3 linked regions of the Homo sapiens genome follow. The protein of the gene in region 2 purifies or fractionates together with the protein of the main gene of each other region. This does not show direct contact. Each region holds a gene or a part of one and is shown on either strand. Other genes may lie near its edges. The genes, in order: PRKCI, RASSF8 and CEP44.

Region 1 (3,759 bases), on a different chromosome or scaffold from region 2:
TTAAATGTAAATACGACAGCATCAGTTCTACCAGAATGGTGCTTTAAGTACAGCAAAATTCCAAACTCTGAAATTTTCACTTTTTCTTGAACAAATTTTGATGCATCTTTGTTCTTATACAAATTTCTGACATACTACATATGAAAAATGATCCACTCTCAATGGGTATTATACATTTTATTTAAAGACTTCAAAGTAAAAAAAAAAAAAAAAGGTACAGAAATAGATTACATTATGATGACCACAGTAGTATTCTACATGACAAAAATAAAAACAGATTTAAGTAAATGTACCGGCACTGAACAAGCATTTACTTAACATCCAATCCAGGCTGCATATGCACAAAATGATCTGACCACATGCTTATGCAAAATAAAGTTTTTCTTAGAAAGCCAAAATTCCAACCATTCTGACTGTCCGCTGCCTATTCCCCTGTTGAGTATTTTGAGCGAACTTCTATAGAATATAAGAACAATTGGCATGGCACTTAAAGACTGCAAAAAACAGAACACAATTAAAAACATTTATAATGCATTTCTGTATAAAATACACACCGTAAATCTTATTAGTTAAAAAAAGATTTAAAAACAAAAGACCACCCTGAATAATGGTTAAAACCTCATCATAGAAAAATGCTCATCATTTTGTACACTGAAAGAAACTACTGAGAGGTTTTTTGGGGGGCTGGTGGGAAGGTAGATACCTAACTTAAAGATTCATTCAAAATTTGCTTTAAATTGTGGGTAATAACTCACTGCTTACCCCTTCTCAAAATGTTTTATCATGAATACTCTAATATTTAACCACAGGACAAACATAAAGAATAACCTGAAGAAGGTATTTCTCAAAGTGAGGTCGAAGGCCCCAAAAGAAGTCTAAGGTGGGCTCACTAGTGTGCATTTTAAACCAACTTCCTAGGTGATTATTTCACATTCCAAAATCTGAGAACTAATGCCCTATGGGAAACAGCACCACTTAAAAGCAAGGCCATAAACATATTTCTGACATGAGATACAGAATTCTAAGTTTATGATTTGAAGTGAATACTGCTTTTTGTTTTAAAACAAGTTTCAGGTGTTAAGAGAAACATATTAAATAAACATGTGGATGTATATAAACATTTTCCTTTGACGTTTTCATTGCTTTCAGACTTATGTTATTTGAAGGAAAGAGAGTATATAGCTAGAAACTTTGGAAAAATGACATTTCCAATGAAATGCAGCATCCACCCCTCCAAAAAAAGATAATTTATTAAATGCCTACAAATTTTAAAACATTTGAAATTTAAACTAGATAACTTTCCTAAAATTTTTACTAAGATTAAAAAATTTTAAGTAATTTAGATAATCATGTTTACTTTTTAAGTCCCTTTTCATTAAAAATATATTTAAAATAAACAACAGAAGGATGCTATATTTGGCACCCCTTTAAATAATAAGCTGCTGAACACTAATATCCATAAAAAATAATCCGAGGAACTCTGCCTCTGAAATGTATTCTACTATGTATTACATGTGTTATCTAGTTAATAAAAACTCACTGAAAGAGCTGATACTGTGATGTGTGTGAGTGTATGTGTGTGTCCTGAACATTTATTCATGCCTACTTTATTTTTCTGATTTCACTAAAGGGTCCAATCATATAGATAATGTGGTTTAGGGGAAGAAATGAGCATAATTAAGATACCCTACTTAAAAAATAAATACTTTTCCTGTATGCTAAATTATAAGGAAAAAATATTATACATTCTGCCTCCACTGAATACATGGAATGCTTTTACAAGTTTGGTAACAATAATGAGTGCCTCATTTGAATCAAGTCACAAAAAGCAACTGTGGGGATTCACTCTCCAATAGGAAATAAAAATATTACCAGTGTACTTTTCTGTATCTATTTTAAATTTCTGGTTTTTTTCCTTTCTATACACTGAGTAATTTTCCATTCAACTGCATCCTTGGTCTTTTGCAGTGTATATATTAACACTGCAGTTAAAGTTTCCAATAAAGGGAAAGGCTCAGGAGCTACCCTGTTAATATACTTAAAAAGAAAAACCACTTGTGCCAGTTTTGCAAAAATAGTTAATGATTTGGAATCTGATTCATAATAAAAAGTGTCTTTTTTAACTCAAGAAGAATTTCCCAATTTGGTTTTTGTTTGAGACCGAGTCTCACTCACTGTTGCCCAGGCTAATCTTGGCTCACTGCCAACTCCATCTCCTGGGTTCAAGCGATTCTCCTGTTTCAGCCTCCCGAGTAGCTGGGATTACAGGTATGTGCCACCATGCCCAGCTAATTTTTGTATTTTTAGTAGAGACAGGATTTCACCATGTTGACCAGGCCAATCTCAAACTCCTGACCTCAAGTGATCTGCCCGCCTCAACCTCCCAAAGTACTGGGATCACAGGCATTGAGTCACTGCACCCAGCCGAATTTCCCAATTCTAAGCAAGCAGCATCTTCTATTACCAATTTAATAACTGCTGCCTTAAAAAAGATCAATAATTTATTTATCCAAGGCAATAAAATTTACACCTGAATTTTTAAACATAAAGAACTCCAAAACTAATAGGTAATATAAAAAGTTGTTGCATTTTATATTAATCTTTTATTTCAAAATTAAACCCTGAAATGATTTAACACAGAATGACAAAAATTATGGGAGGTTTATGATGTAATCCCACTATGTGCCTTAATGCAACAGATACTTTTTTAATGCAGTGTTTTTTTTTTTTTTAAACAAAAAAGATAACTTCATTACTCATCTGTAGGCCTTTTAAAAACTGAAAAACCAGTTCAACTAAATTTTGACATGATTGTCTGGAAGCTAGTAGTATTAATTTTTTTTTCATAGTAAAACAGATGTAATAATTGATTCATATAGTCTACAAGAGAAGATATTGGGTGTTTTTTTGTAGGTGGCAAATATAAAATGGTTAATTGTATCCAGGCTTGCAGCAAGTTTATCCATGCATTAAATGGCAACATGAGTAGAATACATGGTTGAAAAATGAGGATCAGACACATTCTTCTGCAGACATCAAAAGAGGATTGATATACTCAAAACCTTCAAATTCAGACTGATCAATCTTCCTCACAATGTCACTGTTGAAAGAAAAATAAATTTATTTTCATCATAATCAAGATTTCTTCAACCTTTAAATGGTAAAATAAGATTAAAAATCAAGTAATTAGGCTAATTGTACTGAAAGGAAATCTATAAATTTTTAGATTAATCCCCCAGATTTTCTAGACGAATCAAGAATGGAGTACTGAAAATTTAAAAAACCCCGATAATCCCACAAGCAAGTTTAGAGCCAAAAAGGAGTTCAAAACTGAGGACTGCGAATAAAAAAGACACCAGTTGTCACCATTCCAGTTAATCTTAACTTTTGACCAGAACAACATTCCTAGTTACAGGTGAACATCCAGGTTTGAATTAGCATTCAATTTAGTAGTCACCTCAACAGCCAGATGTTAGATAGTGTAGCCCAGAAGAAGTTAGCCAAAAGGAAAAGGCAATAGGAACAAGTACACTGAGAGACCTGGAATGAGGAGAGAACACCGCAGGGAGATCATGGGTCACAGAGAGGGGAGAGGTTGGCATTTTGTTACACTGGGCTTCTACTTTAATATACAGTGAGTAGTGCTATCAAATATTTAATACATAAATGTATTATGCCATACTAAGAAGCACAAAGTTACAGAGGATACAGTCCCTTCCTTCAAGGAAGGGAGGTAATTCCTACTGGAAGAGAAAGCAG
Region 2 (3,659 bases):
CCTCATCATTTAAGGCAACTAAATATACATAAACTATGATGAAGATAAGCTTAAAATAAATAAGAAGAAAGGGTAAAACATGGTGGGAGAATAACATGAAGCCAAGAGCTGTGCTTCATTTTCACTGTATAATAAGATTTTATTTTATTTTATTTATTGAGACCGAGTTTCGCTGTCACCCAAGCTGTAGTGCAGTGGCATGATCTTGGCTCACTGCAACCTCTGTCTCCTGGGTTGAAGCCATTCTCCTTCCTCAGCCTCCATAGTAGCTGGGATTACAGGTGCGCACCACCACGCCCGGCTAATTTTTGTAGTTTTATTAAAGACGGGTTTGACCATGTTTGCCAGGCTGGTCTCGAACTCCTGACCTCAAGTGATCTGCCTGCCTCAGCCTCCCAAAGTGCTGGGATTACAGGCGTGAGCCACCATGCCCAGCCAATCATAAGATTTTAAAAGTATACATTATCTTTCCAGTGAAGAACGATGTTATTTCATTTGTTGTATTTTCTGAAAGTATGGAGAAATAAACAATAGGTGGGATTTTTCCTAATGAGGGATTCTGGGAACTAAGAATCTAAATTCTTAATCTGGGTCTAAATTTTGGCTCATGGAAACATCTTTAGTTTCAGAAGTCACTGTTTAGGCTGAACAACAGGAGAGGAGAAGGCAGTGTAGATGTTAACTCAGGGTTAGTAAAATCTAGGGGTGTCAGAGAACAAGCATCATCACAGATGTACCTAAACACAGGCAAACTGTAATAAGTACAAGAGTGCCTGTGAGACTTATTATGGAACCAAATGAACAAAATCCCCTAGAAATCTATATTTAAAACAAACACATACAACGAAAGAAAGCACAATGTACTTTTCTCAGATACCCACAGAGTTCACTCACCTATTGCTTGAGCTAAGGCTATGACAACCTCCTGGCAAGTTGTGACTTCAGTGACTCCACAAACAATCCTCTGAACTCCATCCACCCATACTTTAAGTTCCATGGTGCACCGGCCAGTCACTCAAGGTCCCTGAGAGTGGTCATCAGGGTGTTAGGTCATGTCTCTAGCTGCAGGAACACGGAGTGGAGAAGACTAAGTCTGTGTAGTCAGCTAAAAAAGGGCAAAAAATCACTTGTAATAAAATGAATCAACATTTCTTCTAGTAAGTATGTAAGTATTACACAAAACAAATTTTAACATATCATAATCTTACTGAAGTACACAGGCTTATTTTACAGAAATGAATTAAGCAACACAAATGCAACTACAGTCACCTATCATGACAGTGTTTCATGTTACAACTATTTTTATCATAATTTTAATCATGAACTCATGCTCCATTACATTAAAAATTCCTATTTAGTTGCCAAGCCCTATTCAATATATGCGCTGTTTTTCTGTCCTGTTTTTTTTCTTTTTGGATTATTTCATTAGGATAATTTCTGAGGCAAAACTAAAGAAAAAAAGTTTGTCATTTTAGGAATTATCAATAAAATTGAACCACTTTGCAGTGTGCAGTGTTTTGCCAATACTATTAACAAATTTAAGAACAGTTGTCAAAGTATCTTACTCAGCTCACATTCCTGATTTAAAACAAACAAACAAACAAAAAAACTGCTACCTGTCTGCCTTCCTAATATTTTTTTCCCTTATTATTTCATTCTCTCTTCTCATGTATGATGTCTTGACAACTGTTTTAAATGTGTCCCTTGCCTCCCTCTCCCCACAGGACAAAGAGTGTCTTCCCGCTGAAATGCCAACACCAGGCACAGCATGAGGGCAGGTGGGTAAAAAATCTTAGTCAAAGGAAACGAATTCCTTTGACGACCAACAGTTTCCTCATGTGTGAACTGTTTATCCTTTTCTCATTTAACTGGGTTTGATAGTTTTCTTAAATTACAAGAGTTATTCAAAAAATATAAACATTAACCGTTTGTTCTACTTGCTGTGTTTACCCAGTGTTTGATTTTGTATTTGGCTGCATTATAAGCAAAGCAGAAATTTTTACTTTGTCATATAGTCAAACCAAATATTCTTTATTTCCTGTATCGATAAGAATGTTACTAGCCTGCTAAAAATGATCACAATTCTTTTTCCTGTGGGTTTAAAAAAACTCTCAACTCTTCCTATGTAAATTCTCTAATCAATCTGATTTTTTGTTTGTCCATTGTTTTGTGGTCTTCCCACGTCTTTGTTGTTAAAATTCATGAGATATAATAAACATTGATTTAATTAAGAGAACATTTGGATTTGTTTATAGGTTTACAGTGGCACTGGTATTTCAGAATTAATGGCTTATTTAAAAGCTTATTTTAAAAACACTAGAAATTTTTCTTGTAAAACAGTAGTTACTACAAACAGTGGCTTAGTCCCTTGCACATTCTTTTAAAAGACCTAAGACAGTTCTAGGCCATCTGGTCACCTGGATAGGTAAGTCAGAACACATGCAAGGGGAAGGAGAATAAACCTAATTATTTTCTCCAGAGAAGGTACACAAATCCTTTTTGTCATCCTAAAAACAAGAAAGGCCTGGCTGAACATTAATCTCCTAGCACTTTGCTTTAGCTCTCTGCATATGACACAGCATAGGTTTCATTATCCCCTGTATGAAGAAAGAAGGGGCCACCTTGGCAATGACAAGCTGATTCCATAACTGTGCTCCTCAGTTATGAGGGCCTGTGAGATGTTAAAGTTCCTGGGGATAAAGGCTTCCAAAGTTAAAGAAATGTTAAGAAAGCCAGTAAATAAAGTTAAACAAGTTCCTTTACAGCTAGACTTCTCTGAGACTTTAATAGGCTGGTGTGCACTCTAAATTTCAAAGGAGAGTTTTATATGCTGCCCAATCTAGAGAACATTTAAGAAAACAGAAAAGTTCTGACTTGTTTCCTCTTCTGCGAGGCACTCTACTTACTAAAAATAGAATATGTTTTATTCTTTCTTGGGATAAAATTAAGGTATCAAAAATGGCCTAAGATTAATATATTGCTTTATTAAATTTTTGTAAAAGCTGGATTAAAGTCTATTTAAAGTGCCTTCTTATTCATTAAAATATCTTAAACTTGGGAAATCAAGCAAGAAAGGGTACAGATCTCATTAAAGCCCCCCTGCCACCAAGAAACCCATCATTTCAAATGATTCTATAGGACTTTTTTTTTTTTCAATTGTGGAAGAAAACATAAGATCTATCCATTTAACACATTTTTAAGTACATGATACAGTATTATTAACTACAGGCATCATGTTGGACAGCAGATCTCTAGAACTTACTCATAATTGTGTAACTGAAACTTTATACCCCTTCTACAAGCAACTGCCCATTTCGCCCTGTCCGCAGCCCCCAACAACCTACATTCTATTCTGTTTCTATAAATCTGATGTTAGGTATCTCACAGACGTTTTATATTCCTTTTTAGACTTTAGCATACTGCCACATATTTTCCTATCTGAATTATCATTGTTTCACTTTGAACTTTTAGTCATATATTGAGTCATTAATTCAACATAGTATTGGAAATTCAGGCCAGGGCAATCAGGCAAGAGAAAGAAATAAAGTGTAGTCAAATGGGAGGAGAGGAAGTCAAGTTGTCTTTCTTTGCAGATGACATGATCCAATATCTGGAAAACCCCATCGTCTCAGCCCAAAATACTCCACTCTAGGAGCTGT
Region 3 (3,659 bases), on a different chromosome or scaffold from region 2:
CTTTAGGTCTTTGAGGAATTGCCACACTGTCTTCCACGGTGGTTGAACTAACTTACACTCCCACCAACAGTGTATAAATGTTCCTTTTCTTCCACAAACTCACGAGCATCTGTTATTTTTAGACTTTTTAATAATAGTCATTCTGAGAAGCGTGACATGGTATCTCATTGTGGTTATGATTTGCATTTTTCTAATGATCAGTGATGTTGAGTTTTTTTCATGTGATTATTGGCTGCATGTATACCTTCTCTTCAGAAGTAGATGTTCATATCCTTTGTCCACTTTTTAATTAGGTTGTTTTTTTCTTGTAAATTTGTTTAAGTTCTTTATGGATGCTAGATATTAGGCCTTTGTCAGATACAAGTTTGCAAAAATTTTCTCCCACTCCGGAGGGTGTCTGTTTACTTTGCTGATAGTTTCTTTTGCTGTGTAGAAGCTCTTTAGTTCAATTAGATCCCATTTATCAACTTTTGCTTTTGTTGGAATTGCCTTTGGCGTCTTCGTCATGAAATCATTGCCGACACCTATGTCCTGAATGGTACTGCCTAGGTTGTCTTCCAGGGTTTTTATAGTTTTGGGTTTTACATTTAAGTCTCTAATCCATCTTGAGTTGATTTTTGTGTATGGTGTAAGGAAAGGGTCTAGTTTCAATCTTCTGCATATGGCTACCCAGTTATCAAAGCACCATTTACTGACTAGGGAATCCTTTCCCCATTGCTTGTTTTCATCAGGTTTGTTGAAGATCTGATAGTTGCAGGTGTGTGGTCTTATTTCTGGGTTCTCTATTCTCTTCCATTGGTCTATGTGTCTGTTCTGGTACTAGTACCATGATGTTTTGGTTACTGTAGCCCTGTAGTATAGTTTGAAGTTGGGTAGCATGATCCCTCCAGCTTTGTTCTTTCTCCTTAGGATTGCCTTGGCTATTTGGGTCTTTTTTGGTTTCATATAAATTTTAAAGTAGTTTTCTTTAGTTCTCTGAAGACTGTCAATGGTAGTTTAATGGGAGTAGCATTGAATCTATAAATTGCTTTGGGCAGTACAGTCATTTTAACAATATTGATTCTTCCTATCCATGAGCATGGAATGTTTTTCCATTTGTTTGTGTCATCTCTGATTTCTTTGAGCAATGGTTTATAGTTTTGCTTGTAGAGATCTTTTGCCTCCCTTGTTAGCTAGATTCCTAGGTATTTTATTCTTTTTGTGGCAATTTTGAATGGGAGTTTGTTTGTGATTTGGTTCTCAGCTTGACTGTTGTTGGTAGATAAGATTGCTAGCAATTTTTGCACATTGATTTTGTATCTCAAGACTTTGCTGAAGTTGCTTATCAGCTTAAGAAGCTTTTGGGCTGAGAAGATCCTCCTACAATTATTTTAAACATACAGCAATTTTGCAAAAGGAACACCAATCTTTAAAAATTAAAAAAAGTTTAAATTATCACATATAATATATATATCAAAATATTACCATTACTAACATTACCAATAATTTATGTGTGATGATAAAATTGGGGTTATGACTTTTAAAACAATTCTTACATTTTAGGACAAGCGCTGAAATATTTATTAAATTATGTCTGAGATTTGATTTAAAATAAAGACAAAACAAGATTAGCAAAGAGTTGATAAATTGCTGAAACTGGATGATGGGTATGTTTGTAAATGTTTGAAATGTTCCATAATAAAAAGTTATTTTTAAAAAAGATTGCCAAATAATTCACTTATAAATAATCAAAAACTGGCTCTATGAGTAGGGCTCATTACAATTTTTCTGTTAAACAAACTGCAATTTATTAGACCTTCAGCTAACAATTCAAACCTAATAATGACAACGAAGAAGTCCTGACAAAAAAAGCATTAGGTCACGGTATGCATTTACCTAGAAATCCTCTACCTGCTTCCTATTCTACAGTTTGCATACACACTATAAAAACATATGTGACTCAGAAGCGCAAATAGGCATACTATATAAGGCACTGGGATAGGAGACAATTTGCTTTAATATTGACTCAACTTTTGCTTGTAAACAAAGAAATGTACTTGTAGACTCTTTTCTAAATCTGAGAACTTTTAATACTTATTCAAATTTCTGATAAAGATCTGGTATAAATTTTAATAGATAACAAAGAAAACTTTGCTTTAAGAAAATTAAAAATAAGTCTAATGTTTTGAAGTTTACATTTTTCTTGGCTAGGACAATTTACACTGTCCCCTCAACTCTCATACTGAAATAGAACATTGAAAAGCACATTATATCAATAAATAATTAATAAGTGCTCACAGTGTTCCTAATCCTGTGCTAAGCAAAATGAAGGTACAAAAAATCAGTATAAGAAAATCCCTGTTCATATATGTTCCTTCTAGTTGGGGAAGAATACAAGATATAAGTCATTTAACAGTTAGAAAATCATAAATAAAACTAACAAGAGTTAGATGAGTTAGAGATGCAAGTGTACAAAAACTACATGCACTTATTCAAAAATGGCGGCTTTGTATCATTCTTTATATTGTCTTCATTACCTAGAGCAAAACAGGTACATTAAAAAGAAGTGGCATAAGAACATTTTCTTATAATAAAATTTCACTTTTTTAAGGTATAAAGGAATAAACATATTTTTTTGAGATGGAGTCTCGCTCTGTCAGCCAGCCTGGACTGCAGTAGTACAATCTCGGCTCACTGGAACCTCTGCCTCCAGGGTTCAAGCGATTCTCCTGCCTCAGTCTCTCAAGTAGCTGGGGTTACAGGCACCAGCTACCACGCCTAGCTAATTTTTGTATTTTTAGTAGAAATGGGGTTTCGCCATGCTGGTCAGGCTGGTCTCAAACTCCTGACTTTAGGTGATCCACCTGCCTTGGCCTCCCAAAGTGCTGGGATTACAGGCATGAGCTACTGTGCTAGACCCAAGAATAAATTTTTAAAATAGATTCTGTTTACATAACTCATGTATTTTGGATTAGGGCAGAAATAATACTCTAGATTATACTTCAGTCAGAAAGTATTCACATCCTTTACTTAATTACACCATTGATAATTCATCTGATATTCTATCATTCAATCAGAGTCTTCTCCAGCTGGAAGACAGCTGAAAATATATTAATAAATAATATTTTAGCTTAAGTCTCCCTTAGTGATAGAAACACTGTAGCTCTAAGTGCATTAGATTCAATTTGCCACAGCTGCTCAAAGCAGATAATGGCAGAAAAATTATCTTTCAAGAAAGAGAAAATATTCAAAATATTAACTGAAAACCAGATTCTACGTGTAGGGACTACCAATTATTGGATAATTCATACTTGGTTACAGAAATATAATGTACATAAATGAATCATTATAACCTATCACTACTGCTAATGTAGGCTCTTCATATGTTCCCATGTTTTAGGAAGACCAGAACACAATTAAGAGCAAATGTAGATAACTGCATAAGATAATCTTCCTAAATCACTACTCTTCTGTTTAGGAAATCCGGCAGAATTAGAAATTAGAAATATAAAGAGAACACGTATTTAATTTTATATTTCTATCCTATTGTTATAACTTCAGGCATACTGCCCAAAAATATATGGCATGCACTGTTAAAAATCAATGAACTCCAATATCTAACTAGAATGTTCATCAGGTGCCAATCAGAAAAGTGAAAACTGTATATTGGATTAATTAGA

The links.
Region 1: the proteins of RASSF8 (region 2) and PRKCI purify together in Homo sapiens (affinity purification with mass spectrometry; 4 studies listed by BioGRID and IntAct, with this or other methods). This does not show direct contact.
Region 3: the proteins of RASSF8 (region 2) and CEP44 purify together in Homo sapiens (co-immunoprecipitation; 2 studies listed by BioGRID and IntAct, with this or other methods). This does not show direct contact.

Annotation. Positions count from the first base shown.
Region 1 is NC_000003.12:170,302,381-170,306,139, reverse strand, and holds the end of PRKCI (protein kinase C iota type), read right to left. Parts: intron 3,101-3,759; coding exon 3,013-3,100; 3' UTR 163-3,012; downstream 1-162.
Region 2 is NC_000012.12:26,052,682-26,056,340, reverse strand, and holds part of RASSF8 (ras association domain-containing protein 8), read right to left. Parts: exon of another isoform or gene 3,345-3,659; intron 1,106-3,344; 5' UTR 998-1,105; coding exon 895-997; intron 1-894.
Region 3 is NC_000004.12:174,304,411-174,308,069, reverse strand, and holds part of CEP44 (centrosomal protein of 44 kDa), read right to left. Parts: intron 1-3,659. UniProt on the Homo sapiens protein: Centriole-enriched microtubule-binding protein involved in centriole biogenesis. In collaboration with CEP295 and POC1B, is required for the centriole-to-centrosome conversion by ensuring the formation of bona fide centriole wall.